4 linked regions of the Homo sapiens genome follow. The protein of the gene in region 2 interacts with the protein of the main gene of each other region in a pairwise test. Each region holds a gene or a part of one and is shown on either strand. Other genes may lie near its edges.

The links.
Region 1: the proteins of MOS (region 2) and CCDC102B interact in binary tests that used the Homo sapiens proteins (3 or more experiments, as listed by UniProt).
Region 3: the proteins of MOS (region 2) and DYDC1 interact in binary tests that used the Homo sapiens proteins (3 or more experiments, as listed by UniProt).
Region 4: the proteins of MOS (region 2) and SSX2IP interact in binary tests that used the Homo sapiens proteins (3 or more experiments, as listed by UniProt).

What each region holds. Positions count from the first base shown.
Region 1 is NC_000018.10:68,892,055-68,899,085, reverse strand, and holds part of CCDC102B (coiled-coil domain-containing protein 102B), read right to left. Parts: intron 1,868-7,031; coding exon 1,658-1,867; intron 1-1,657. UniProt on the Homo sapiens protein: During interphase, forms fibers at the proximal ends of centrioles to maintain centrosome cohesion. During mitosis, dissociates from the centrosome following phosphorylation to allow centrosome separation. Contributes to CROCC/rootletin filament formation.
Region 2 is NC_000008.11:56,112,418-56,118,978, forward strand, and holds MOS (proto-oncogene serine/threonine-protein kinase mos), read right to left. Parts: upstream 1,566-6,561; coding exon 525-1,565; downstream 1-524.
Region 3 is NC_000010.11:80,346,747-80,353,777, forward strand, and holds part of DYDC1 (DPY30 domain-containing protein 1), read right to left. Parts: intron 5,872-7,031; exon of another isoform or gene 5,865-5,871; 5' UTR 5,856-5,864; coding exon 5,709-5,855; exon of another isoform or gene 5,691-5,708; intron 5,257-5,690; coding exon 5,155-5,256; intron 1-5,154. UniProt on the Homo sapiens protein: Functions as part of axonemal radial spoke complexes that play an important part in the motility of sperm and cilia. Plays a crucial role during acrosome biogenesis.
Region 4 is NC_000001.11:84,680,450-84,687,480, forward strand, and holds part of SSX2IP (afadin- and alpha-actinin-binding protein), read right to left. Parts: intron 2,019-7,031; exon of another isoform or gene 1,749-2,018; intron 1,536-1,748; exon of another isoform or gene 1,379-1,535; intron 1-1,378. UniProt on the Homo sapiens protein: Belongs to an adhesion system, which plays a role in the organization of homotypic, interneuronal and heterotypic cell-cell adherens junctions (AJs).

The sequences.
Region 1 (7,031 bases), on a different chromosome or scaffold from region 2:
ATCCTACAGTCTTCTAAGTGATCAGCATACCCACTGACTTAGACCTTTGAGGATCCTCTCAGTTTCCAAGTTCTGCTTAGTCCCAGCCCAAATAACTACATTGTCAAAGAGACCAGGTCTGGACTCGGTGTGCCCTGATGACAGGTTACGCCAATGCCAGCTCCAAACAGGTCTCAATTTTTCCCGAAAGATATACTTTATATTAATACATTTTGATACAACTAGAAAGGTGCCAAAATCAAATATAATCAATTGCTTCTTAATCTGTGTCCCCTTCCACTTTATTCTTAGCAATCACTATAATGTTTTATTTATAAAAATTTGTGTGTTTGACTCCCTATATAGACTCTAAGCCCATGCTGGGTGGGGATAATGATTCATTGATTAATATTCTCATTACCTGCATATAGAACAGTGACTGACACAGAGAATAATACGAATAAATGTTTGTCTTGTTTGAATAAATCAAATAAAAAGTATTTCTATAATCAAACCACAGTCCATAATTGAGATAATTCTGCACTTTTTAGAGTAGAGATCTCCAAAATAAGATGTCTACAGATTTATCAGTGTACATATGTCAGAATCAAATACATTATTATGGATAGTTTATGAATCAATATAATAGAAAATTATGGTCACGGACTATAACATTTAACTTTAGATATTTGCATTGCTAGGTCATGAAACACTAATACAATTTAATCTTGCATTTGCAATAAATCCCTAGATTCATGAAAGAATGATGAAATAATATGGAATTCAATTTTTCTGGCCATTTAGGTTTTAGAGCTTATGTGAGTATGAATGACTTAAATATCTCAAAACTATGAACTTATCAAATTCACCTTTTAAAACTGTTAAAGAAACTGAGTGAGAAATAGAATTGTGCATTAAGATGCTATATATAATTGAAAAATAGAAACAAGGTAAATATAATTTACAGCACATTGACACGAACCCACATTAAAACTATAAGACTGCCATTAAAAGCACATTTAAAAATCTGTAAACTATCAAAAAAATGTCCGTCTATAGCATAAACTATATCTACTGGCTTGGGGATAAAACACATCCAAAATTAAATTTCCCAAATTTAAATTCTGAATGTTATCCTGGTTTTAAGATTTATACCACAGGCTGGAAAAATTATTTGAAAAATTATGCATTTCATTAGCTCAAAAATAATCGTTCTGAAACTGACAAAAAAGAACCAGAAAGCAGTGAGTTTCAGCTAAATTTAAATGTTTATGCAGATACTTACCATAGCTACCAGCAAATGCTTATTGTATAGTCGCTTGAATTAATGAAAAAATCTTTATTGGAAATAAGATCATTAGCTTAGAAAATACTGAGACAAAGCTTTAATAAGAAACAAAAAACCAGAAAGTTCTATTTCTTACTTCATTTTTCTTCTTCCTTTTGGAAATCTTGAAACTGTCTGAAGATTTGTCATATTTTAACATTTGACACACTTTGTTTCAGATGCATGAACGTTATTTTACATCCTAGTGGGCAAAAGAGCAAGGAGTATCAGGTATTAGCTGGCACAAAAGGAAATATCCAAATGTGGAGGCGTGTACGAGTGAAGACAGACTCTGCGTAGGCATCAGAGTGAGATTAGACAGTGAGAATTTGCTCCAAGGAGCACCCATACCTGGTTTTTTTCTTGCAGATCAATTTGTGACATCTTGAAATCAGGACTTTGAGAGTTTGCACTTAATCTATTTTTCTTATCCAAAAGCTCTTCCATTTCTTTCACCTGGATCTTCAGCCTTCTATTTTCTCTCTCCAGTCCCTGCTTTTCTCTTTCAAGTATTTCCCTCTTGTCCCACTCCGAGGTATTTTCAGCTTGCAATCTCTCTAGCTACACACAGAAAACACAAAGAAGCAGCATGCAGCATTTGCAATTGCCAAAAGATAATGCCACCCACAACCAGACTCCCATTAAGAAAAGTTCATGGATATGTCCACTGATACAATTTTAAAAAGAAAATTCTATTTGTTTGAAAACATGAGAAAAATACAAAAATCCTAAGATCAGGCCAAACCGTAGATAAATATACTTTTCCTCTTGGTTCATGTAACTATCTCTACAGCCATATGTACCATATTTTTCAAATATATGTGTCAAGTGAAGAACTGCTGCTCTTGGGAACATTAATCTCCACTCTCAACTGATAAACATTCTCAGTGGAGAAGACACAATATCATTTCATGGGCAATTTTGATTGGATATATTTCATTTATTCATTCACTCAATTATCTAGGGAATAGACAGATGCTATATGGATCTCTCTATCTCTATCTCTCTATCTCTCTATCTATGCAACATTTGCAGTTGCCAAAAAGTAATGCAAAAAGTAATTTAATTTTATATTGAAAAAATATATATAATTTATCATTTTATATTTTAAAATTTTACATTAAAACATTTTCAACATTAAATTATATAAAATTCAAACTATACCACAAATAAAATCGTATTGGGACATGGCCACGCTCATTTCTTCACACTTTGCCTATAACTGCCTTCACACACAATGGGTAAGTTAAGCTGTTGAGAGAGAGACCATATAGGTAGTAAAGCCCAAAATAGTTACTTTGTGGTCCTTTACACTAAAGTTTTGTCAACCTCTGCCCTCTTCCCATGGTTCTCAACCAAGGCTGCATGGTATATCAACATGAGGAGATTTTTATTACTATCAATGACCAGAAGCCTACTCTAGAAATTCTGATTTAAGATAATTTTAATATCTCCTTTGGTTTTTGTTATTTTAATGTCTTTAAGTTTTAAAGAGGCAATATCAAATGTATTTATTTTCTGCAGTTTTATTACATCTAAGTGCTTATTATTATGAGATGAAATTATATTCGTCTGCTATAATTTTTCTGTGGACATTGTAAGTAGAAGTGAATAGTAGCTTTTTTGTCTCTAAATTATAGTCCTGAGCTATGCATTCTAATGTGACTTCACCATTTATTCTCTGGATAAGCTTAGTCAGGTAACTTCATCTACCCCAATGTAGACAACTTATTTAATCTGACAAGGTTTGTGAGAAGTGAAATTAATCAAAGTAATTAGAAAGCACTTTGTCTAGCAATGTAACACTTAAAGGAGAAACACTGTGGTAATATAAATTTTTTAAATGTATGTTTCTCTCATATATTTAGGCATATGGATATCGAGACATCAATGTAATTTATTGCATAAATCTATACAGCAGAGTAACTCTTTACAGTAGAAAATCTATTAGAATCTCATCCTGGTCCCACCATTTACTCATTGTCTAATTCTGGACAAGAAATTTATTATCTTATTAAGTTTTCTTACTAGTAAAATTAGTATGATACCATACATATAATACCATAAATACAATAGCACAAATACCATATTTGTGGTATTGTAGGGACAGAAGAGGGTCAACTACTCAAAATTCCTTGCAAACTATTTAGGATGATTAGAGTATGAGGCATTTTAAAAATATCTCAAAAGGATAAAAATTCTAAATTACTTGTTTTAACATTGTTGATTATAATGGCTTCATTGCAACATACTTTATAATTATTATACTGTTATAAAATCTGTTGCTATGACATGCTAAATTCTAAAAGCCCAACAACTTAGTCAACATTTAGAAAAATGTTACATTTCAACAATATCCTTTATAGTATCATAATAAATTATGATATAAAAGCCTAAAAACTGCTTTTTCATATATATATAATTGTACCATTATTGTAGAAAATGTTCTGTTCCCAAATCTAAGAGATGTTCTGGCTTCCAAAATGTAGGAAACCAAAATTACATTCTTGGCACTAGACCTCATTTACCAATTATATATAATAAACTAAGGGTCAAATTTTAGATGATGTAGTTTGACATTTGGGATGCTTGTTTGGGAATATGAGGTGAAAATATTATATCACAATTTAATTTAGTACCTGCCATTACTTTCATTGTTAAGATTAATACTTAAAGTTTCTATCATTGCCTCACTTATCAGAATAAAAATGATAAAGTTGCCACAAGAAGGCAGCAACTTAGCAATGAAAAATTAATATAAGGAGAGCAAATGTATTTTTGGGCAAGGACAAATATGCTGTGTCAAGTCTTTGTGAACTTGCAGTATTCTTTTAAATGTTAAAATTAAATAAATTGATTTAACATTAAATAACAGATAACAAGTAGAACCAAGGTTTTAAATAAGTAATACATGGTCTGAATGAATAAATTTTAACTCTTAAGATTTTTTTTAAGTAATGATTTTAGCAGTAGCAACAACAAAGCTTAAATAATGCCTTCTGATGTTTTACTATTGGCAGATTTATCAAAACATACAAATTATTTGATAAATATATGTGTATAACATATATTAAAAAGTAAAAGTCTTATAAAATTATAAGAAGTTTTAGTTTTTATTTTGTAAAACTGTTTCTTATCACATCATTCTTTTCCAAGAATCATATGAAAATTCACTAACTTAAAAAGCATTTAATTGCATGTACCTTAAAATGATAAATAAAAAGTCAGGTAATATTTTAAGCTCTCAGAGTTTATCATAAAAATTACAATAATTTTATCAAATGGAAATAGAATTCCATTGCTTTGCTTCTGATGATGAAGAGAAACTCCTAAAATATTTTAATTCTAACTCAACTGTGAATTTTAACCAATAGCGTGTTCTAGCATTAAATGAATTTCAGATAATGCAGAAATTACTGAAACCTGTTTTCTGAAAATTTTAATGTAAAAGTACATTCTTTGTACAGTAAGCACTAAAATATTTGTTCACTTAATGACATCAATTTCTTATTAAACGTCGAGAAAAAGTACATAAATATCCAATACTACACTTACTGAATGAATATTTATTGAGCTTATTTATGTATCAAGAAACAAAGAGGAACTGAATATATGACTTTAAAAATACAAATAGAATATGAGTAACATTGGGCATCTTTTTACAAAGGAAAAAAAATTGAGTGTCATAGAAAGGCCTGCAATAAATCAGGTAAAAGGAGAAGGTTGTTTGAGGAAATGATTGATATTTAAGCTGCAAATTGAAGTTTAATAAGGCAGAAAAGCACAGCCAGACCCAGAGTGTACCAAGCACAGAAAGCAAGAAAAATGTTTGAACAGTGCAAGACCAAGAAGAGTCTGTGCAGTTATGGAATGTTAGGATTTGGGGAGAACATGGTATAAAAGGAAACTGGACAAACACGGACTGGTTCTGAAAAATAAGTATGAATATCAGAATCAGTTGAGTTGCTTGTAAAAACTGTAATATTGTGATTATTCCGAAGGATAAAACATTGGATCATTTTCTAAACATAGCTATTTACTCATTCTTCAACTGCCATGGCTTGATATTGTTGAAAAGATACTGACAATTGTAATCATTAACAACAACTGGAATGTAAGCTTTATGAAACCAGGACTGTGTCATTTTGCTCATAAGCCCAGCACCAGACACACACTGTATGTGTGCTCCATAAATAACTGTTAAGTGAAAGAGAAAGCAGATAATGACAGTCTCCAGGAAAAAGCCCTTCTGTATTTCAATGACAATGATTACACACAAAGCAAAATTAAGACAGCACTCTAAAAGAATCCAGTTACTAGACTTACCATAACATAACATGAAAAGGACTTCTCCGTACATTGGCTCTGAACTCTTACTGCTATTGCCAGAGCTGTTTTACATTTTATAGTAGTGAACACAGTGAGGCAGAGAGGATTTTTAATAAAATAACCTACAGATGAGTCCCAATTCTCCTTTTAGACTGATTGCCTCAATTTTTCTTTTTTATAACATAAGAAAACTCTTTCCTACAACCTAGTGTTATGAGGGAGAACTGAAATCATTTAGAGAAAATATTTATTAACTTCCAAATTCAACTCAAAAATGTCTAAAGTCATAAATTTATTTCCTAAAGAAGAAAACATCAACAGCCACTTCAGATACAAAATAGTGTATTTACTTTTTCCTCAAGTTGTACCAAGATGACAATCACTTTTTAAATGGACCTAGTCAATGGAGAAAACTCCCAAAAGAATGCACTATATGCCACTTGGCAGGCCAGTGAAGAGTCACCTAAAACCAATGTGAATGTTCCAGTAATTGATTTGCAAATATTCAGAAGGTAGCAGCTGGGTTCAACTACACTCCCTGTAATTGAGATATGAGAGCCATTGTCTAATGCCAGACACAACTATTTCCTTACATATGTATTGATGTTATACCTATTTTTAAGCTTTGCAGTATCCCTCAAGATTTGAATGTGTTTATCTTTCAGTCTTAAATTACATTGAATTTATTTGCTAGACTTATTTAGATGTCTGTTTTGTAATATCCAAATAAATCAGTCTCTTAAAGTAATTTTTTGTAATCAATACAAAAATAGATGACTATGGCTATAAAATAGTATCCTTTGAAAATTGCATAGTTTAGAACGTGAACACAGACTAAATCTCACTCTCTCAAGCCAACCTCCAAAGATCAAAAATGAGAAAAAAATAAAATCACTGGTAGCTGCAAACCTGTCAACACAATAAAGAGGCTTAGACTTATAGAAACTTGACGGATATGTAAGAGGTGCAATAAATGTCTGAGGGCAGCAGAGACTTCTCTGGAGACCATGTGGGAGCAGAGTCAGATGGGGATGGTGCAGAAGAGAAAACATGCGCTATGGTGGATGTCCTGTAAAGGTAGCCACATCACCTTAAGCAGGGAAATAACTGAGAACAGATCTCAGACCTGGAGAGCCAGAACACAAGCTACTATCAGAAATGTAATAAAGGAGATTAGAAAGTACAAGGGTCATTGTTTTCAGGTTTTTCAAGGTCATGGGTAGCACTCTAGATTGCAAGGGGTATCTTGGAAAGCAGGGCTGTCATTTAGAAACTTCCTGGAAAGGGACAGGAGGAAAGCAAGAAGTTGATATTAAGGGAATTATCAAAGAATCATAAGACAAATTGATTTTCATCCTCCTACCCAAAAGCTTGGATTTTTAAAAAGTGTCCCTTC
Region 2 (6,561 bases):
ATGATATAATTCCTTTGAATGTAAATGTACCTCAGTGTATGACTTTTATGAGTGAAGGTCATTACAAACAAGAAGTTTTACTGGGGGGAGTAGTAGGAAAGCATTACTTATTTTTTTAAAAGTTTTTACTGATTTGGTGTGGGAGCAACTACACCATTAATAGTTGGAATTTATGTGGTAGGTATGGGATATATATGGATTTATAGAAAATTTTGACATTTCTGCAGTGGAGTTCTATTTTGGACAAACTTTTATCAATAACAAATTTAAATAAATGAAATACTAGCAATGGAAAGCAAAGCACATGACTATATGAATAAGATTAGTTACTAACAGTACTGAGACAACAGGTACTAGACTTGTAGCTTTGCTAATGTGTCCTAGAAAAAGCACTGGAGACTAAAGGAGTTTTTAGTAACTTTATTTTCTAAAACTCCATCCTACAAATATGTTTTCTTCGACATCTCCACTTCCTTTAAAAACAAATAGAATCAGACAAAAACTTATCTTGACCAGGTTTTCAGTCAGCCGAGTTCAGCTTTCAAAGAGGTGAGATCCACCAAAAGCAGCCGCGCGCTCGGCCTCTGCGCCGCGCTGGGTCTCCAGCAGCGCTGGATGACGTCCCCAAGGCGCTGCCCGGGGAGCGAGTCCTCGAAGACGGCAGCGGAGAGGGACGGGCGCAGGTCGTAGGCCACCACCGCGTACAGTATGTGCTGCCGCTCCCCCGAATACGGCGCCTGCTTGGTAGTCATTTGCCAGAGAGTGATGGCAAAGGAATAAATGTCGGCTTTAGGCGTCACGCCCTCTCCTTTCAGGAGCTCCGGGGCGCGGTGGGTGTATGTGCCTCCTAGAGGGTAAGAGGGTGTCTGGAAGCACAGCAGATCTTCCAACTTCTCAGAGCAACCGAAGTCACTAATTTTACAGACATCCTGCTCACTGATCAAGATGTTCGCGGGCTTCAGGTCCAAGTGCACAATGCTTTGCGAGTGGAGGAAGAGCAGGCCGTTCACAACATCTAGTGAGTACTTGAGACACTTTCCCAAACTTAACTGTCCTCCAGTGCGGCAGTGAGGCTCCCCTGCGTCCCCCTCAGGGTGGCCGGCGGCGCCATAGATGACTTGGTGTAAAGTGACGTTGCCACCGAACTCCATGATGATGGTCCCTAGGCTATTGGACCCTGCGGGCGTGCGCGTGCTGGCAGCCACCACGCGCACGATGTTATCGTGGCGCAGCCTTGCTACGTTGAGCTCAGCCCAGAAACTCCGCCGAGATGCTAGTCGGTTCTTGGTGCACTTGTTCACTTGCTTTATGGCCACAGGAACACCGCGGTAAGTCGCCTTGTACACCGAGCCAAACCCTCCAGCTCCCAGCCTCTGCAGCAAGCACACCTGCTCCCAGTCAATGGAGCACCAGGCCAGCCGGCGCGGCAGCCGCGGGGCCCGAGGAAGAGTGGCCCCCAGAAGCAGCTTCGCAGGTAGCTCTGAGGGACTGCTGCAGGGCCGCGCGTCCACCGATGGGGAAAACTCGCTCCGGAGGTAGGGGCGTAGGGCCAGGGGCGAGGGCATCGCACTTTGCAGGGGGACACCAGGGCCGCTGGAGTGAATGAAGAGACTAGGGGAAACCGCGGGACTTTGGAAACATGACTGACTACTCCTTCGCTCCACCTCATCCCTTTTCTCCTTTTCCTTCACTTGTTCCAAATGAGCTACATCTGTGCTGTCACTCAGCAAGAGTTTTTATCAGATGGAGGGAGAAACCGGAATGAAGCACAGCTATCCCTTTCAGATGAAAGCATTTCCCTTCCACACTTGAAGTGAATTCTTATAAAAACAAGCTCATGCCAGACAAACAGCATGGAGCTGCCTCAGAACTCACCCCTCTTTTACATTATTTCTTAAATTATAATAAAATACGTTTTTTTCAAGTCTCATCCGCTGCACATTATCAGTCCTCAGACTAAAGAGACCACAAAGCACAATGAAATTGTTTCACACTTTGCAGGCTGTAATGATTGTTAGTGTCATTCTCCAGCTGCATTAAATCACTTCCAGCAGGTATTGGCTAAGAGTTAAAATGCAAACAGCAGACATTTGTTTAACCAATTACAGGGAAAAACTAGGTGCAACATTCATATGGATAAAAAATTGCAACCTTAATCAATCCAAATAGAATCACTGATACAGGTCATAACACACACCTAAATTCATCAGTGGAAAGGAGAATCCCCTGACACTCTATGCAGCTTACACAGCAAATTAGCAAGACATCTTAGCAACATACTGACTTCCTAACAATCCTTCCCTTCCAAGGCGATTTGGCCCAACCGGTCAGCTCACTTGCAAGAGAGATTCTAGACTTCGTAGCAAATGAGTTACCGAAGTTTTGAACCAGAGTTGGGGGAGACAAAAGAATAGAAATGATTCAGAGCTGTGATCAGGGCTTCAAATAATAACACATATGGGAGAATTGTAGAAGAGGAAAAATCTGAAGAAATAAAAATGGCACAAAATCACTGGTACCTACATATAATGTAGAAAACCAGAAGTTGGAATGAAATTCAGGGTATTGGCCATCAGACAATAAGATCTTTCTTTCTGATTTTTATAATGAAAATTAATTTTCTACCAAGTGCAGTGAGTTATGCCTATAATACCAGTGCTTTGGGAGGCTAAGGTGGAAGGGCCACTTGAGGCCAAGAATTTGAGACCTGCCTCTACAAAAAATAATAATAAAGTTAGCTGAGTGTGGTGGTGCACTCCTATAGTCCTAGCTACTTTGGAGGCTGGGGCGGGAGGAGACTTGAACTGAGGAGTTTGAGGCTATAGTGAGCTATGATCGTGCCACTGCACACCAGGCTGGATGATGGAGCAAGATCCTGACTCTAAGCAAAAAATTAATTTCATACCATATCTTTGGAAAAAGGACCAATAATATTACCATATTCATGAGAAAACACACACACACAAAAGTGTTAGGATCTATATTTTAAAAAATCAAATGGTAAAGTTCCCTTCTTCTAAAGCACTTATGTGTTAGGTTATGTGTAACCACATTTTAATGATAGCAGTTCTGTTTTTGAAGTATATTGACTTTGAGAAGGTAAATTAATAAACATGAACCATTTACAGAAACAATTTGAGGTCTGTGAAGCCCTGGAATAGGATTTCTATTCTATACAACCTGTGTGGCTTAGTATGTGATCTAGTGTGTGTATAATATTTAACCTGCTTGAGCCTCAATCTTTTTTTTTTTTTTGAGACAGAGTTTCGCTCTTGTTGCCCAGGCTGGAGTGCAATGGCACGATCTCCGCTCACTGCAACCTCCGCCACCTGGGTTCAAGCGATTCTCCCGCCTCAGCCTCCCGAGTAGCTGGGATTACAGGCGCATGCCACCATGCCCAGCTAACTTTTGTATTTTTAGTAGAGATGGGGTTTCACCATGTTGGCCAGGCTGGTCTCAAACTCCTGACCCCAGGTGATCCACCTGCCTCAGCCTCCCAAAGTGCTAGGATTACAGGCGTGAGCCACCATGCCTGGCCAACTCTATGGAATATTTTAGTAGAAAGATTGTTGTGTGCAATTGTGTCAAACCCCAAATATAAAAGGATGCCAATGAATAGAGAAAAAGTAATACAATTATATTCTATAATAAATCTACATTGCAAAATTTACTCAGTAACTGTCACCTAGTTAGGATTATAATTCAGGGCTCTGAAATGGTTATATAATAGGAGTGCTGTGAATATTAGCAGAATGAGAGTGCCTTAACCCCCTAGATATTACACATAATGCAAGATAATGTGACTTATTATATAATCTTTATTTTTAAGATAATTGCATACACAATTCATTTTCAAAGTTGGTTTTACTCTTTACCCAAAACATAAGGTATTAGTGAAAATGTGGCATTCTGTGTATTTATAAACCCCAAGTTCATTAGATCTATCATCTGCCAATCTGCCCAAGAATATTTAATTGAATATCCAATTTACAACAGCCTTTGTTTTCTTTTTTAAGGTATCTTAAAATATTTCTTTTACTCAGCAAATTGCACTTACCCTGAAAGCAGGATTTATCTCCCTATTGATTTTTTCTCCCCGTAACACAGTGCCAAACATATTTCTTATTATGTTCTTACTTTAATTTTGCTTTTTTCTTTTTGAGACAGCGTCTCACTATGTCACCCAGGCTGGAGTGCAGTGGTGTGATCTTGGTTCACTGCAACCTCTGCCTCCTTGGCTCAAGCGATCCTCCCACCTCAGCCTCCCAAGTAGCTGGGACCACAGGCACACACCACCACACCCAACTATTTTTGTATTTTTTTGTTGAGATGGGGTTTCACCATGTTTTCCAGGCTGGTCTTGAACTCCTGAGGTCAAGCGATCTGCCCGCCTCAGCTTCCCAAAATGCTAGGATTACAGGGCACTGTGCTTGGCCCTTAACTTTAATGTTTAATCCTGATTTGGTTACCAAATATGTGTGCACTATGTAATATTTTGGATCTCAAAAATGGGTAAAGCTTTAGCATGGTGGTAAAAGGCTATTAGGGGCCAGATGGCCTGGGTTTCTTACCATCCCAGTGCCTGTTTCCTTATCTGCAAAATGAGGAAAATATGCCCATCTCAGGATTGTTGTGAAGAGTAACAGAGTTTCAAATACTTAGATCAGGGCCTCAATGCTAATTATTATTTATAAAACTCATTTAAAAAACCATGTGTATGGGCTTATACGAATAAGAAACATATTTGTTAGGTAGTATTGGTTTAAAAGTATCCTATCAGGGCTGAAATAACTCGTTTTCATGTTAAACTAACATACAATTTGAGTATTTTTCTGCTCTTGAATTTTGCGGTTAAAGGTATAAAATCCTGCTGTATTAATGGTACAGCATGTAGTAAAAACGTGGGTGGAAGGTTAACACTAATCTGATCAAATGCAATATGCCTATGTCATCCCCCAAAGGCAAAGAGCAAAATGTGTTGATAACAAGGAATTCTCCTTGGAATTATATATGAAACAAAGGAGACAAGATAAACTGCACCTCCTGAGGAGCGAAATGCTCTCGTGTTCTTAGCGCACAGGCTTTACGTGTTTTGTTCTTTGATTGGCAGCATGACTATTAAGATACTTTCGTATCAAACACCATATTTATCACAAGAGTAACAACAGATACCGGAACGGATAGCTCCTTTTAATTTGACTTTAATCAGAGCCTGAGGATCGCGGATAGTGGGAGAACGTCCTCCTGACCAACGTGGTTGGCTTTCTGGGCACGCTGGGCCTGAGCCGCCCCAGCTCCCGGGGCGCGCACCGGGTTCCACGGGTACCGTGGACGGCGGGGCGCTGCGCCCTCCCTGCCTCCTGCACTTGCTGCGCTGGGGCCGAGGAGGTGGCTCTGCCTTTCTTGATTCCCCAGTCTCTGGAAGACAAGCCGCCCTCGCCGCCTCCTGGCTACCCGTGGGCTCGCCCTCGGGCTCGCCCGCTGGTGCTTTTGTGCGTTTCCTAGTGCACGGGCTTTGGGCGCGCTGGTGCCCGGAAGCACGTGGGCGAGGCCGTCGGTCCCCGAAAGACGCTCAGAGTGCGCCCAGCCTGCCCTTCTGCGTACGCAACAAATTTTCCTTTCTCTTTAGAGTCATCACGTCGTCTTTTGGAAGGCAGTCTTAAAAAGGCCCAGAAGCTCAACAGCAGTCTCAACAGCACATAAAACCCCACCGACGGCGGCCGCGCTTGCGCCTGCGCACTCTTGACGGCCGCCCGAGTCCTGGCAGGGGACCGCCAGGTTAAGAGATCTCGGGTGACAGCGGATTCGAGAGGTTACAGTGGATTCCAGAGGTTACAGTGCGAAGAGCGCGAGTATTGCAACCGTGCAAGTGTGGTATTGCTGGTTACAACCGTGGATTTCATCGTCGAAATTTCACTTTTGCCTTTTTTAAGACTAAAAAGTTAAGCTGTAGATGAATATATACGCTTTACTAAAAATTCCCATACAAAGATTATAGACTCAAACTTGAAAAACATATCAATTTTTTTTTACTTCAGTGGGATTATACTATTGACATTCTAAAATTTGAATTTTATACTTAGCAATATAACATAGACTTGTTTCTATGTCAGTAAAGTACATATACAGCTACTTTAATTTTTATATGGTCCATATAATATGGTCGGGGCAGATCTTAGTTTGTGGATTGCATGGAGCACGTCCCTGGATGTGACCAGCGCACACTATCTGTTTCCATGCGGGGAGGTTGGGGTTGGTTGCTTCCACTTTGCCCTGATCGCTTGGGTTTTGTATTTTGACTCTGGAGATACGTAAATAAAATTTTACTTGTCTAAATACAGCTAAACTTCACAAAAGGTTTTAAGACATACAAATGTGTTTCAAACTGGTTTTGGAAACCTTTGAATTTAATGATATCTTGCAAGTTTCTCATGTTTTTAAGAACATAAAATGCTTATAGATATTTGAAATTTTGAAATTTGATCTGATTAAAATGCGGCTGTCTTGAATGATTTTGTCCAATTTATGATCACATACTGGCATCTTCCCTCAAGCCAGACT
Region 3 (7,031 bases), on a different chromosome or scaffold from region 2:
ACTGCCCCCGGCCATGTCTCTTCCCTTTCTGATAACAGCCATCTTAGGCTGGTCACGGTGGCTCATGCCTGTAATCCTAACACTTTGGGAGGCCGAGGTGGGTGGATCACCTGAGGTCAGGAGTTCAAGACCAGCCTGGCCAACATGGCGAAACCCCGTCTCTACTAAAAATACAAAAAAAAAATTAGCCAGGTGTGGTGGCGGGTGCCTGTAATCCCAGCTACTCAGGAGGCTGAGGCAGGAGAATCGCTTGAACCCAGGGAGCAGAGGTTGGAGTGAGCTAAGATCACGCCACTTCACTCCAGCCTGGGTGAAAGAGCGAGACTCTGTGTCCGAAAAAGAAAAAAAAAAAGCAGCCATCCTAATAGGGGCGAGGTGGTATCTCATAGTGGTTTTGATTTGCACTTCCCTGATGACTAGCGGTGTTGAACATTACTTGTCACTTTTGATAATATACCTGTTGGCCACTTTTATATCTTCCTTGGAGAAATGTCTATTTAGGTCCTTTGCCCATTTTTTAATTGGGATCCTTTTTTTTTTTTTTTTTTTTTTTTTTTTTGCTATTGAGTTTGCATTCCTTATATATTTTGGAGATTAACTCCTTATCAGACCTTATCAGATATATGGTTCACAAATATCTTCTCCCAATCCATAGGCTGCCTTTTTGTTTTGCTGATTGTTTGCTGTGCAAGAGCATTTTAGTTTGACCTAGTCCCATTTGTTTAGGTTTGCTTTTATTGCCTGTGCTTTTGGTGTCATACCCAAAAAATTATTGCCAAGACCAATGTCAAGGAGCTTTTTCTACATTATGTTTTCTTCCGGGAGTTTTACAGTTTCAGGTCTTCCATTTAGGTCTTTAATCTATTTTGAACTGATTTTTGTGTATGGTGGAAGACAAGGATCCAGTTTCATTCTTTTGCATGTGGATATCCAGTTGTCCCAACACCGTTCATTGAAGAGACTATCCTTTTCCCTTTGTGTTTTCTTGCAGGGCTTGTCAAAAATTAGTTGACCGTATATACTTGGGCTTATTCCTGGGTTCTCTATTCTGTTCCACTGGTCTATGTGTCTGTTTTTATGCCAATACCATACTGTTGTAATTACTATGGCTTTGTAATATAATTCTGGATCAAGTAATTTGATAGTTCCAACTTCGTTTTTCTTTCTTAGGATTGCTTTGGCTATTCAGGGTCTTTTGTACTTCCATACAAATTTTAGAATTGGGTTTTTCTGTTTCTGTGAAGAATGCCATTGGAATTTTGATAGGGATTGAGATGAATCTGCAGATTACTTTAGGTAGTATAGACATTTTAACAATACTAACTCTTCTGATATATGAACACAAGATATCTTTCCATTTATTTGTGTCTTCCTCAATTTTTTGCATTAGTGTTTTACAGTTTTCAAGGTATAGATGTTTCACCTCCTTGGTTACATTTATTCCTACGTATATTATTCTTTTTGAAGCTATTATAAATAAGATTGTTTTCTTGGTTTCTTTTTCGAGTAAGTTATTGGTAAACAGGATTTAAATTTTTCTTAATGAGAAGAAATACTCCCAACCACTATTATCAAACATTAAATGGCTTTGGAAATTAGCTTTGGCTGCAGACTTGATAATGTTTCTTAATTCATTTTAAAATTACATGGCAAAACATCACTCATATGTAAAACTTACACTGCAGTAAACTCACTTCAACAACAGCTCATGTTGTTTGAATCACAAGTAACGTAAAGCTGCTTTATACACGTCCAGTGCTGTCAAAACTAGAACAGGATATTAGATCTCCGTTCCCAAACAAATTGTCAGTGGATGTATTTTCCAACCTCGAACTACAATTCCAGAGTGTTTGTAAGGCCTCAACGTAAGTGCAAAGGAAATTTCCATATTCTGAAATCCATTTAACTATGCAATTAAGAAGCTTCCATCAACCTTCAGTTGGAAGTGGCTATTCTACAAAGTAATGCATGCTAAAAGGCAAACAGCAAGAGAAAAACAAAATTCTAGAAATACCTTCTAAGGAATGAATATGCTTAATTTAAATTATACACACATAGACTGATAGCAACTTTTGACAGTAACTATGTAAAAAGACATTTTCAAGGATGAAATGCATAAAACCTCATTACAGATCAGCATTAGCAGATAAACTTTTTTTTTTTGAGGCGGAGTCTCGCTCTGTCGCCCAGGCTGGACTGCAGTGGCGCGATCTCGGCTCACTGCAAGCTCCGCCTCCTGGGTTCGCGCCATTCTTCCCCCTCAGTCTCCTGAGTAGCTGGGACTACAGGAGCCCACCACCACGCCCGGCTAATTTTTTGTATTTTTAGTAGAGACGGGGTTTCACCGCGTTCGCCAGGATGGTCTCGATCTCCTGACCCTGTGATCCGCCCGCCTCGGCCTCCCAAAGTGCTGGGATTACAGGCGTGAGCCACCGCGCCCGGCCCGCAGATAAATATTTTAAAATAGATTTTGATGATAGACCACACTAACGCTGAACTTCAACCAAGTGAAATGTTATCTTTTAAAAACTTTTTTAAATTCTCAATAGTAAACCTATCTAATAAAAAATTTATATTCAGTGATTATTATTTGAATTTCATCAATAAAACATTTGCAAAAATTCATTTTCTCTCTTGTTATTCCTACATAATATGCCATAATGCCTTCATAATATCATCAAATTTGCCTCTTGGCCTGTAAAGCATAAAATGTCTACTATCTGACAATGCATTCTAAAATAATAAATTTTTACAAGTAAAGATATAATAAAGTGCTTGATATTTTATTTGCAAAAGCTTTTAAAGGTAATTTCTTAGTATTCCTATATTATCACTACTAAGATAAAAGTGATGGGGTAGGTAGCTGAAACGCAGAAACAGTTTCAATCAACTTTCAGACATTGGTAGAGGAAGTTAAATAACTCCAATCTCTCAACAATAATGCAAAGTGTATTTGTTAAATAACAGTCAGATTGATCAAAACAACCAGCTTCTTGACATTTTCAAGAAACTTCCAAAACCTAATCCCCTTCCTCACACATGAGCAAAACCACTGAAAGCCATTCAAAACAAATAAACAAAAAAGCTCTTACTTCAAAACTAAGCTCTTACATAGAAAATGGCAATAAAAATACTTCCCTGTTCACAAAAAACTAGGCTTGTGGAGAGTGCCTAAAATATCAAGGAATTTCAAGTCAGTGGTACTGACTATGAGGACAACTGCTTTTGCAACCAGCAAGGAAATAACCAGAGTTCCCAACCTCCAGCTTACATGACTCAGAAGGCACCCAGAGGCCTCTCTGTTTTTCTTCATCTCAGCCACACTCTCTCAAGCCTTTCTCTGTTGATCGATCTCTCCTATCTATTTCTGCACACCAATCCACTCCGCTAACTGGCCATAACATCTCCTGTATAATATTATTTTCTCTTCCGCCCTACTACAATACTTAGGATTCAATGCACAGTGGATTAGTTCATACCGGTCAACATAATATGGCTAGAGAAACTTGTTATTGCTAGTATTGCCAAATTATGCATAAGTAGGATAAAGTAGTCGAGCCGAAGAGAGTTATGTATCTCCCACTTACGATGTAATTGCCTAGGGGAAGGAGAACCTCTGGGAATTCTCTTATTTTTGATAGACAGGAACAGATACCAGCTATAGGAGCTGTAAGAGGAAGGATGGCTCCTCATCCACAGTTGTGGCTGCTGCAGGAAGCACCTGGCCTGTTTGGATGACAGTTGACACCCAACTCAACACTTTTTAACCTCCCTTCAAGAATAAGCCAATGACTGAAAATGAAGACTCAGAAGGAGTAGAGTTTTCAACAGCCCTATCCTTCTAAGGGGCCTGCAGTTTTCTACCTCAATATCAGGGATAGGAGGTTAGTCAGAGAAGCTATTTGCCAGGTCTATATTTTTCTTTCTATCCACATACTCAAATAATAGGCTTCTTTCCCCTTTTTAAATATGTAAATTTGAGTCAAGACTCTGGGGTTAAGTATTATCTGGTAGAACTATGGAAGTGGCTTAAATTTAGCTTAGAAGCTCTCTATAAATTAAATCAGTCCAGAAGCCATTCTGGAACTTTCCTCTCTCCAGCTTGTACTCCATGACCCATCCCTTCAACAATTCCCTTACCAATATCTTCAGCTCCCTAATCATGCTACCCCAATCCTGCTTCAATTAAAAGGTCTGCCTGCTCCACTTCTTCACTCAGACATCTGGGCCCAAGTGAAGAGAATCACATCATCACATAACCAAATCAAATGGCACGATTATCAGTACTTGATCTTCAACTGCTACCAAGTAATGCTAAATTATATCCCTCAACTCTCTCTTCCATTCTCCAAAGCTGTCATTTCTAACTTCACCACTCTGCCCACACCTCCTACCTTACAACCTTGTTCTTAGCAAGTGAACATGGTGCCTACTTCATAAAGAAGACAGAAACAGTTGTACGCAGAAGGTGCTTCCACCAACACCATTCTCTCCTCTTTCCCTTGATTATAATCAAAGAAGTGCCTTCTCCCTGCCCAACCTATGATCCAGGCCCATTTCCTCTCATCTCCATGGTGAGCTGACCCTACGAATCATCCACTCTATTTCCTAATGTCACCCACTCACTCCTCCACTACTGTGCTCTTAAATCAAAACAAACACAAAAACATCTCTCCTTGCTATCAAAATCTCCTTGAAAGCATTGCCTACATTTTCCACCTCCCCTGCCTAAGTCCACCCACCCCCACCACTCCATCCACACTGTTCCCGCCAAATTACGGTGGCCTCTCATGAACACTTTTCCATTCAGCAATAGATATGGTTGACCACTCAGATCTCACCAAAACAGTCTTTCCCTTTGCCTTCTGTGACAGCACACTCTGTATTTTCCTCTTACCTGGAGGTATGGCATCTTTTGTATCAGCAACAACAGTGTGGAAAGGAATGTGTATATGTGTATACAAGAATGCACTCAGGAAAACTCATGGCTGCTGCTTCTCCAGCAAAGAAGACACACACATCCATAAAGATGAAGATATTAGGAAGCCATATCTAAATAACTGGAGCTGGGAAGTTTATCAACATTTAGGCTGTGCCATGCTGAGGTTGGCATCGTTAATTCCAGTCCCCTCTGAACTCTCCTACTTGCCTCACCTGCTGAAGTAAGAGCTCCTCTGCTTTGAGCCTCTCCATCATTTCCTGCTCCATCAGAGCTAATTCTCTTTCACGCTCCAGCTTGGCCATTTCCTTTTGTCTCTAGCATTGTTTAAAAACAACAGCACACGACTTCTTAGCGAGAAAGCAATTTGTAAAAGCAATCTTGAAAGCACTTAATAGGAACAATTAGGGAAAGTGTTAAGCAAATTATAGCCCATCCCTGTGGAAATGATATAATAATTTGGGAAGATATTTTATCTGAATAATGAGCACAATATTAAAGTTATACATTGTGTATGATCACAAGTACATAAACGTAAATCTATAAATCTATAGAAAAAAGACTTCCCATGAAAGGAATTACCTAAAAATCTAAATAGAAGTCTTCTTTGGGTAATGTTTTCTCCTTCCTGCTTTTCATGTTGTTCAAGTTTTTGTATAATAAACATTATTTTTATAACAGAAAAATAATAATGTTAAACTTTTTTAAAAGCAGACAAGTTGGACCAGTTTTTTTTCTTCTAATTTCCTAGAAGGAGATTCCTACTTACCAGTTGTTCCATGGTCACATTTTCCTTATACTTGTAAATCCACAATGCTAAATATTCTATCGGATCCACTGGGCGAACTCTTGCCACTTCTGCAAGACCTTGAGTTAAACAGGCCCCAAGGTGCTTTTGAAGATATATTGACTCCATTTCTAACTCCTAAAAAGTAAGTGTTTTTGCATTACTGCAGGATATTTTCAATAAAGTCACTATAAAACTAAAGTCCAGTGAGGTGAACAAAGCCTTACATACACCCTGCCCTCAGTCATGGACACCTCCCATTGGGGGTGTCACAAGCAAGCTGGCCCCAGGAAACTTCTAATAGTTTCCAAAAGGGCTCCAAGGAAGTCACTACAACTAACATGGTTTCAAAATCCTGAAGGACTCTCAAGTCCAAGAGTCAGAAAAGAGATATTATCATTATTGATTCCAAGTTTACTTGATGCCAAGTAATGTGGGTCTCATGTAATCCTCACAACATACCTGAAAAATGGGTATCATCATCCCAGTGGGAAGATGAGCAAGCCCAGGCACAGACAGCGTAAGTGCACAGTTCAGGATCACACAGCTGGCAGATGAAGGAGACAGGGTTTGTACCCACCTCTTGATTCCAAAACCCTAACCCTAAAGACTACACTAAAATGTTCCTCCTAAGCCATGAGAGCCGTTTTTACAAAGCATCACAATAGTCCACCTTTTGAAAAAAAAAAATCCATAAATTTCCAAGGCCAAAGAATAAAAACTCAGCCTCCAAATAATAACATATGAAGCTCCTCACAATCTGGCCCCAATTTTCTTTTCAAGTTCACCTCCAGACATCATCTCTCCTGGCCCCAGCACACCCTGGGCTCTAATTCCATGGACATGTCTGGCTAATTTTTTTTGTATTTTTAGTAGAGACAGGGTTTCACTGTGTTAGCTAGGATGGTCTCGATCTCCTGACCTCGTGATCCGCCCACCTCGGCCTCCCAAAGTGCTGGGATTACAGGCGTGAGCCACCGCGCCTGGCCGACCAGATTGTTTTTAAAACAGAAAAGGAAAAATGGAGCAACCAATCTCTTTCAGATGCTTTGGAAAAATTGATCACCCTCAGATTACCCTTAATATTTTAAGAAATCGGCTGGGCACAGTGGCTCACGCCTGTAATCACAGCACTTTGGGAGGCCGAGGCGGGCGGATCACAAGGTCAGGAGATCGAGACCATCCTGGCTAACGGATCTCCTTCATCTGCCAGCTGTGTGATCCTGAACTGTGCACTTACTCTGTCTGTGCCTGGGCTTGCTCATCTTCCCACTGGGATGATGATACCCATTTTTCAGGTATGTT
Region 4 (7,031 bases), on a different chromosome or scaffold from region 2:
TTACCAAATTTCTTTAATAATTTTATTAAATAAACTTATGCATGTAGAGGGCTTAAAAAAAGGTCATGGGTACATGGTAAGTGCTCAATAAATGCTAGCTATTATTAGCTATTTTACTCTTGGAAAGACTTCCATGATATTTTGTTAAGTAATGTAAAAAAGTTACAAAACCATATCTAATATGAGCTTATTTAGTCCTCAGGAAAAAAAAACAAATATCAGTAGATATGTACAGGCATAAATTCTGCTCTATAAACACAAAAGTTGGTATAAGGACAGAAAAAATTGCAAGGAAAAACCAACTTAAAAAATAGGGAAAAGGCAAGGGCAGGACTTTCATTCCTTTCTTTATGTACTTTCATGCACAAAAATATAACTTTTATTTTATTGTGTCTTCCAAATTTTCTATAAATGAAAGTGTTTTTCATATTAAGAAAAAAAATTTATGTTTTTAAAAGGCAATTATGGTGATGATAAGCACAGGAAATGGGGATAAACAGCACCATTCTGAACCACCAAAACCAATGGTAGAATGGCATGAGTGATAAAAAATGCATAAAATAAAACAGCAAGCAGTCTTGTTGGGCAAAAACTGGTTAGAAAATTATACAAATGTCCTACAGTTTTTTAAGATAGTCAATTATGTAAGGGAAATAGCACTTTACCAGAGATCAGTAGTTTGTTGTTTTAAAGGGCAATTCCAACAGTATACAAATATTTGAAATGTGTAAATCTTTCCACTAAACAATCATACTTCTAGGCATATAAGAGAGCAAGCATAATATATATTGAGGACATTGTTGAATTGCAGTATTATTTGAAATGGCAAAAAACTAGAGACAATCTTAATATCCATCATGGACAAACTGTTAAAAACCAACACATATGGTACAGCCAGGCTATTCTGGGATTATTAAAGATTAAAGCACATATGCATGTATAGCACAAAAAAAGAAGTTACAGGTTAATTAGAACAGTATGATCACCATTTTTTGTTAACTCAAACTACCTATATATATTTAGGGGAAAGTTCTGGAAAAGTTACAAAATGTCACAAATGACACTTCTTGGGATGGAATAATTTGGGTACAGGGAGGGGTAGAAGAGCAGGGCTTTCACCTCTTCCATAGCATATCTTTATATAGCTTGAATGTTATAGGAGCATGTATTATTCTGTAAAATTTTTAGCAGCAGAGTATTCAAGCACAATTAAATGAGATAATGTGTGAAAGTACTCTTAGCTCAATCCCAAAAAGTAGCAGCCCTGTCCTTGAGTGGAAATCTCGACTTAGACAAATCCCACCAATCAGGTACACTTCTAGCACCTGTTCCACATATGTACGCATACCCATGAGCAAGGGTAATGCAGTCTTCATACCTGAGGGAATGTCTGTGGGAATCTGGCCCATCAGGAAGACAGGGAACAGAAATACAGAGGCCAGACTTTTCCCCAACTATCATCAAGGGCAAAGCCATGGAGTACTGGCAGACCTGGCAAAAGTGGACTCTCCCCCTGGCTTAATGAACAATCCAACCTTGGTAGGAGGAAAGAGGGAAATTGACTTTATTAACACCCTCTTCAAAAACAAATGCTCTTCATCTTTCAACCTTCAATGAATGAAATTACTAAGAAGGTGCATTTCCGCTTCAAGAGAGCAGCTCACAAAGTTAAATACGGTAGGGACTTAATCTATGTACACCATCTGATATTCCATTATATACTGACTTTTTATTGCTAATGTTTTCACCTGTTTTGGACTTGGCTGCCAATTAAACTGTTAGTTTTCCAGGGCGCTGTCACTTCAGGGAAGCTGCACAGGGTACTGAGAGAGCGCTGGACTGAGTAGCATCAGAGGCCATGGTTCTCAGCAACACTTCTGTTATGTACTGAGAAACCTTGAACCGGTCATAATTTCTTTGGGTTTCAATTATGAAGTCAAACTAGATGACCTTTAAAGAATTTCAAGTTCTATTATCTTTTGATTTTTACATTTCTCATAGGACCCAATATGGAACTGAGTACAGCTATTTATATCAAAATTATTTTGTCTTCACTTTTTTTTTTTTTTTTGAGACGGAGTCTTGCTCTGTTGCCCAGGCTGGAGTGCAGTGGGGTGTGATCTCAGCTCACTGCAACCTCTGCTTCCTGGGTTCAAGCAATTCTCCTGCCTTGACCTCCCGAGTAGCTGGGACTACAGGCGCATGCCACCGCACCTGCTAATTTTTGTATTTTTAGTAGAGATGGGGTTTCACCATGTTGGCCAGACTGGTCTCGAATTCCTGACCTCGTGATCCTCCCACCTTGGCCTCCAAAATGCTGGGATTACAGGTGTGAGCCATCACGCACTGCCTTTTCTTCACATTTTTATAACAATGTGCACACATTGTCTTTACAACCCAATGTTTAGCAAATGAGATTCTACCTAATTTTAATAACAATAAAATAATTTATTAAGCATGTAGCAATTACTTGGAACAATTCTAAGCATTTTATGTGTACGAACTTATTCAATCTTACAATGATCCAAATACTTTCCCCCATTACAGATAAGGAAACTGAAGCCTGGAGTTTTCTTGACCTAGGATACAGAGCTGGAACATGACAAAGCCAAAATTCAAACCCTGGTAGTCTAGCACATTTAACATTACACCCTACTATCTTTAGTACAGGAGAGGGGGAAGGATACAATATTCAAGCTGCTTTTTTTTTTTTTAAGTTTTGGGATACATGTGCAGAACGTGCAGGTTTGCTGCACCTATCAATCCGTCATCTAGGTTTTAAGCCCCGCATGCATTAGTTATTTGTCCTAATGCTCTTCCTCCCCTCAAGCTGCTTTTTCAAACCGAACAAGTATTCTCTTCTTTACCACCTCACCTGAAACTAAATTATAATCAAATAATTATGCCAATTGAATAACTGGAATGGGAACTACACAAAAGCAGACAAAATATTAAATTCTGGATGTAGCAATTCAAAAAAATTTTGAAAAACCTAGCAAATATATTGCCAGGCTTTCCCTGCACTGCCATCCCTTCTCTCTGTGCTTCTAGAACACTTAACATGAACTGTATTACAGCACAGATCTAACAGGAATAAAATTTCTCTCCCACCACAACTGAGTTCTCATTTGGCAGGCTTGTCAGCATATTCTTTGTACCCCACTTCGGTAACAGGCATCATCACTCACTCCAAGGTTGGAGCCCAGTCAAGATTGCTGAATGAATGTCCAAGTTCAAGGATGTATTAGTGTAAGGTTTGCTGCTGTTTTAGTATGATAGACAAGTCAACACTTTGGCCATGCTGCAATTTGGAAGGGCTTTCAACGTAATCTTGATTGGTAACAGCTCAGAGAAGGAGAAAGGTGATTCAGGGTATGAATCAAGAGCATGGCAATTTACAAACAGTGTATCAGTTTCAAATTCTTCCAATGTACACACAGGAATAGCAGCAATCATATTCTTAGAAGATTATTAAGAAACAAGAAAAAAAAGAGGCACTTTTAGAAGTCTATCAACTTTTAAGGTTAAAAGTCAGCTAAGAAGTCCAAATCAAATTTTAAAATTACTATTTATTGGTATTTCACTCCTCAAATAATGAAATGGTAATAGCATCTACTAAAGGCATTGGAAATAACAAAGAAACCAAACATAATTAATAAATCTACTCATCGTTTTTTCAATGATTTAGCCCAAATTCAATCATTGGTTATAGTTGTCAACGTGTGGTCCTGGGACCAGCAGCATCAACATCACCTGACTCAATAAAAATGCAAATTATCAAGTGCCACTACAGACCTACAGATTCAGAAACTTTAGTGGTGGGAGAACCTCCACGTAATTCTGACAAAGTTTGAGAATCACTGCTGTGTTCTATAGAATGTGGTTCAGTATAAATTAGTATTCTATTTATATGCACTTTCAATTAGAGAACACCAAAAAGGAATTCTTATCTAAGGGTCCTACAAAATGGATTCCAAGAATGATGTAAAAGTGTTCCAAAGCACTAAATGGAGGCTGAAAATAACAGTCCTAGGGAATGCCTGGCTAAGCAGCTTATTAAACCTTAGAGGATGGGGGGAAACTCTGAAAAATAAACAGTTCATCAGCTGAATATTCATTTATCCTATTCACATACTCTACAGCCCAGCAAGTCCACTCCTAGTGAAACCCAATCGAAACTCTTGCCTACGTATGCCAGGAGGTGTGCACCTATACAGCAGCATTCTTCACAATAGCGAGTAGCACAAGAGTATCACCCTGGAAACAACCCATATACCACCAACAGGAGAATGGATAAATTATGCCATATGCACAAAATGGAATATTATGCAGTAATCAGAAAACTTCAGTGACACATAATATAAATTTCAGTATTATAAAATGAAAAAATTTTCAGAAGATAGGGCATGTAATATATACAGTTTTAAATTATGTGATGCAATAAAACTATAAAAGACACCGAGAGAATGATGAATATAGGATTCAGTAAATAGCTGCCTCAGGTGAGGGACAGAGGAAAAAGGAATGGAGGGGCCCACAGGGTTATGCACAGGGTTAGGTGGTACTTACTGTATTATTAAAACTATAAATGGACCAATTAAACAAACGTGTCATGAGCCAAGGAATATAAACTAATTCTTTACACCTGAAGTCCTTTAAAATGCTTTAAATACATATATATAAAATGTTCCTCCAATATTTCAAACAATTCTAAATTCTACCCAGTCAGTTTGGCTGTGGAGGCACCAAGAGCCCTGGGTCCTTGGCCTTACTGCCAACTCAGGGGTTAAAATGTTTTGGGTCCCAAAACCCAAAGCCAATGACCCTCTTCCTTTAAAAGTACAAGAACAGGCAATTTGGGCTAGAGTTTCAGAGGATCTATGAAGCCATCCATTTGCAAAGGATCCATGGATGGCAAGTTAATAACTCCTGTACTAGCTAATTATGTGAAACTGGTAGGAGAGAAGCTGATGATGAACTCAAGAGCACCTAATGCATGCCAGATGGGGCTCCATTAGCTGTTATCACTTAATCCTCACGCTAGCCCTAGGAAGGAGTAAAGATAGCACTGGTTTATTGATGGAAGAAACTGAGGCAACAGATTAGGTAACTTACAGTTACAAACCTGGAAGACAGAAATAAAATCCAGCTATTTAACCTGGAAAGACTAAAAACTAGCTATTTATGATTCCAAAGCCTCACAGGCCTGGTTTCCTCCTGACATTCAACAAATATGCTGAGCAAATGATATCAATTCTCTGAGCCTATCGCCTCATTATAAAACAACATGGCTAATGATGGGTTGTACTTACAGATTATTTCTATGATGTTGGCTTGCTTTTATAGTCTAGATCCTATGCAGGGGGATATTCCTGAAATTTGGCTATAGAATAGAAAATAAAATCGAAGGCTATAGAATAGAGAATAAAATAGATAGGAAAGCACAACCAGATTACAATTAACAGGCAAATGAAAAGTATAGGCAGTGGCTGGAACCCATCTTGAATTTTAAGTATCTACTTTACACTATTTAGGCTCTATATACGATTTCAAAATTATTTAGTCCTACAATTCTTTTAGAACAATATTTCTCTACAAATCTCCTCCAAACTTAATGCTTGCAAAATAAGTTCTATTTGTAGCACCGTGGCACAAAAATATATTCTCAGTGCTGACTGTATGCCAAGAACTACACATGAAGTAACTTAAATACTTTTTTGCTTTTTATCTTAATTTTTAAAATTTTTTTACAAAAAGCATACAATACTTTTATAATCTGAAAAAAAAATCTTTGAGACAGATATTATAGTAAACTGGGCAATTAATGGTCAGGGACCAGCTGGCTGACTTAGTCAGTGACTGAGGATAGTGAAGAACAGGTAAGAAATAATTCAGGACATGGTGACAAGTACACAAAAGGGAGGCATCTACTCTCTCACATAAAAACCTGTCTTTGGCACTTGACAGATAATAGTGTCATTTAGATAAAGGGAACAGAGGAGTAAAGTTAGTAAAACTGGGTTTGGGCAAATGTGTGGAGATAATGAGCTTTGTGTAGCTTACTGGGTTTGGAGATGCCCTTATGAGACATTCACATGGGGATAAACTCTAGGCCTAGAACTCACAAGACATCCGAGCACATTTAGATAGATGAATTCATAAAGAAAAAAGGGGCAGGAGAACAAACCCCAAAGAACATCAACATAAGCGAGTGAAGCAGACCCAGACACAAGAGATACAAAGAGACAGGGGAACGGACTTCAGGAAAGCCAAGGGAGAAGACTTTTAAAGAGAAAGGGTGATACACAGCAGCAAATGCCATAGAATGGGCAGGTTTTGAATTTTAAAAAGTGTTGAATTCGGTGATTAGTGACTTAATGACAAAGCTGAGGGGTAAAAATGAAAATCAGACTTCAGAAAGATGATCACCAAATAAGAAAAGGAAAATCACTTGTTCAAGAATCTCAGTTTAAAAGAATGTTAGTTTCTCTGAATGTAGAGGCTTTATTAGACGCTCATGGATAGATCTAGCATGACAAAAAAAAAATCCTGTCTTTAAAGTCTGTTCTTACTCAATTACAGCATTTTTATATCAAGTAGAAATATTAAGTGCTCAGTAAGTATGAGCTATTTTTCCAGGCATTGTTCTGGATACTAACCTATTTTTCTAATCACACCCCTACGAAGCAGGTATTGTTATTATCCTTCATAAATGCGACAACCAGGGCACAAGATCACATAGCTAGTAGTGTGGTAGATCAAACCGAAAATGTGACTCAAGAGAATATGAGAAAAGGATATGTGTGAAGCAAGAGTTAAAAGATGAGAACAACTGGAGTTAAGATTGTTCTGAATGTTTAACTGCTTGTAGTTTCATTTCTATTTAAAAACTTATTTTTGCTAATTTGAAAGACTATTTCTTCTCTCATCTCAGAATCCTACATTGCTAGAGTCTGACATTTTTATGTCTGACACCCAGATTCTGTACTGCATTATAACTGTGTTATTTCTCCTACTGAACTGCAGGTTGC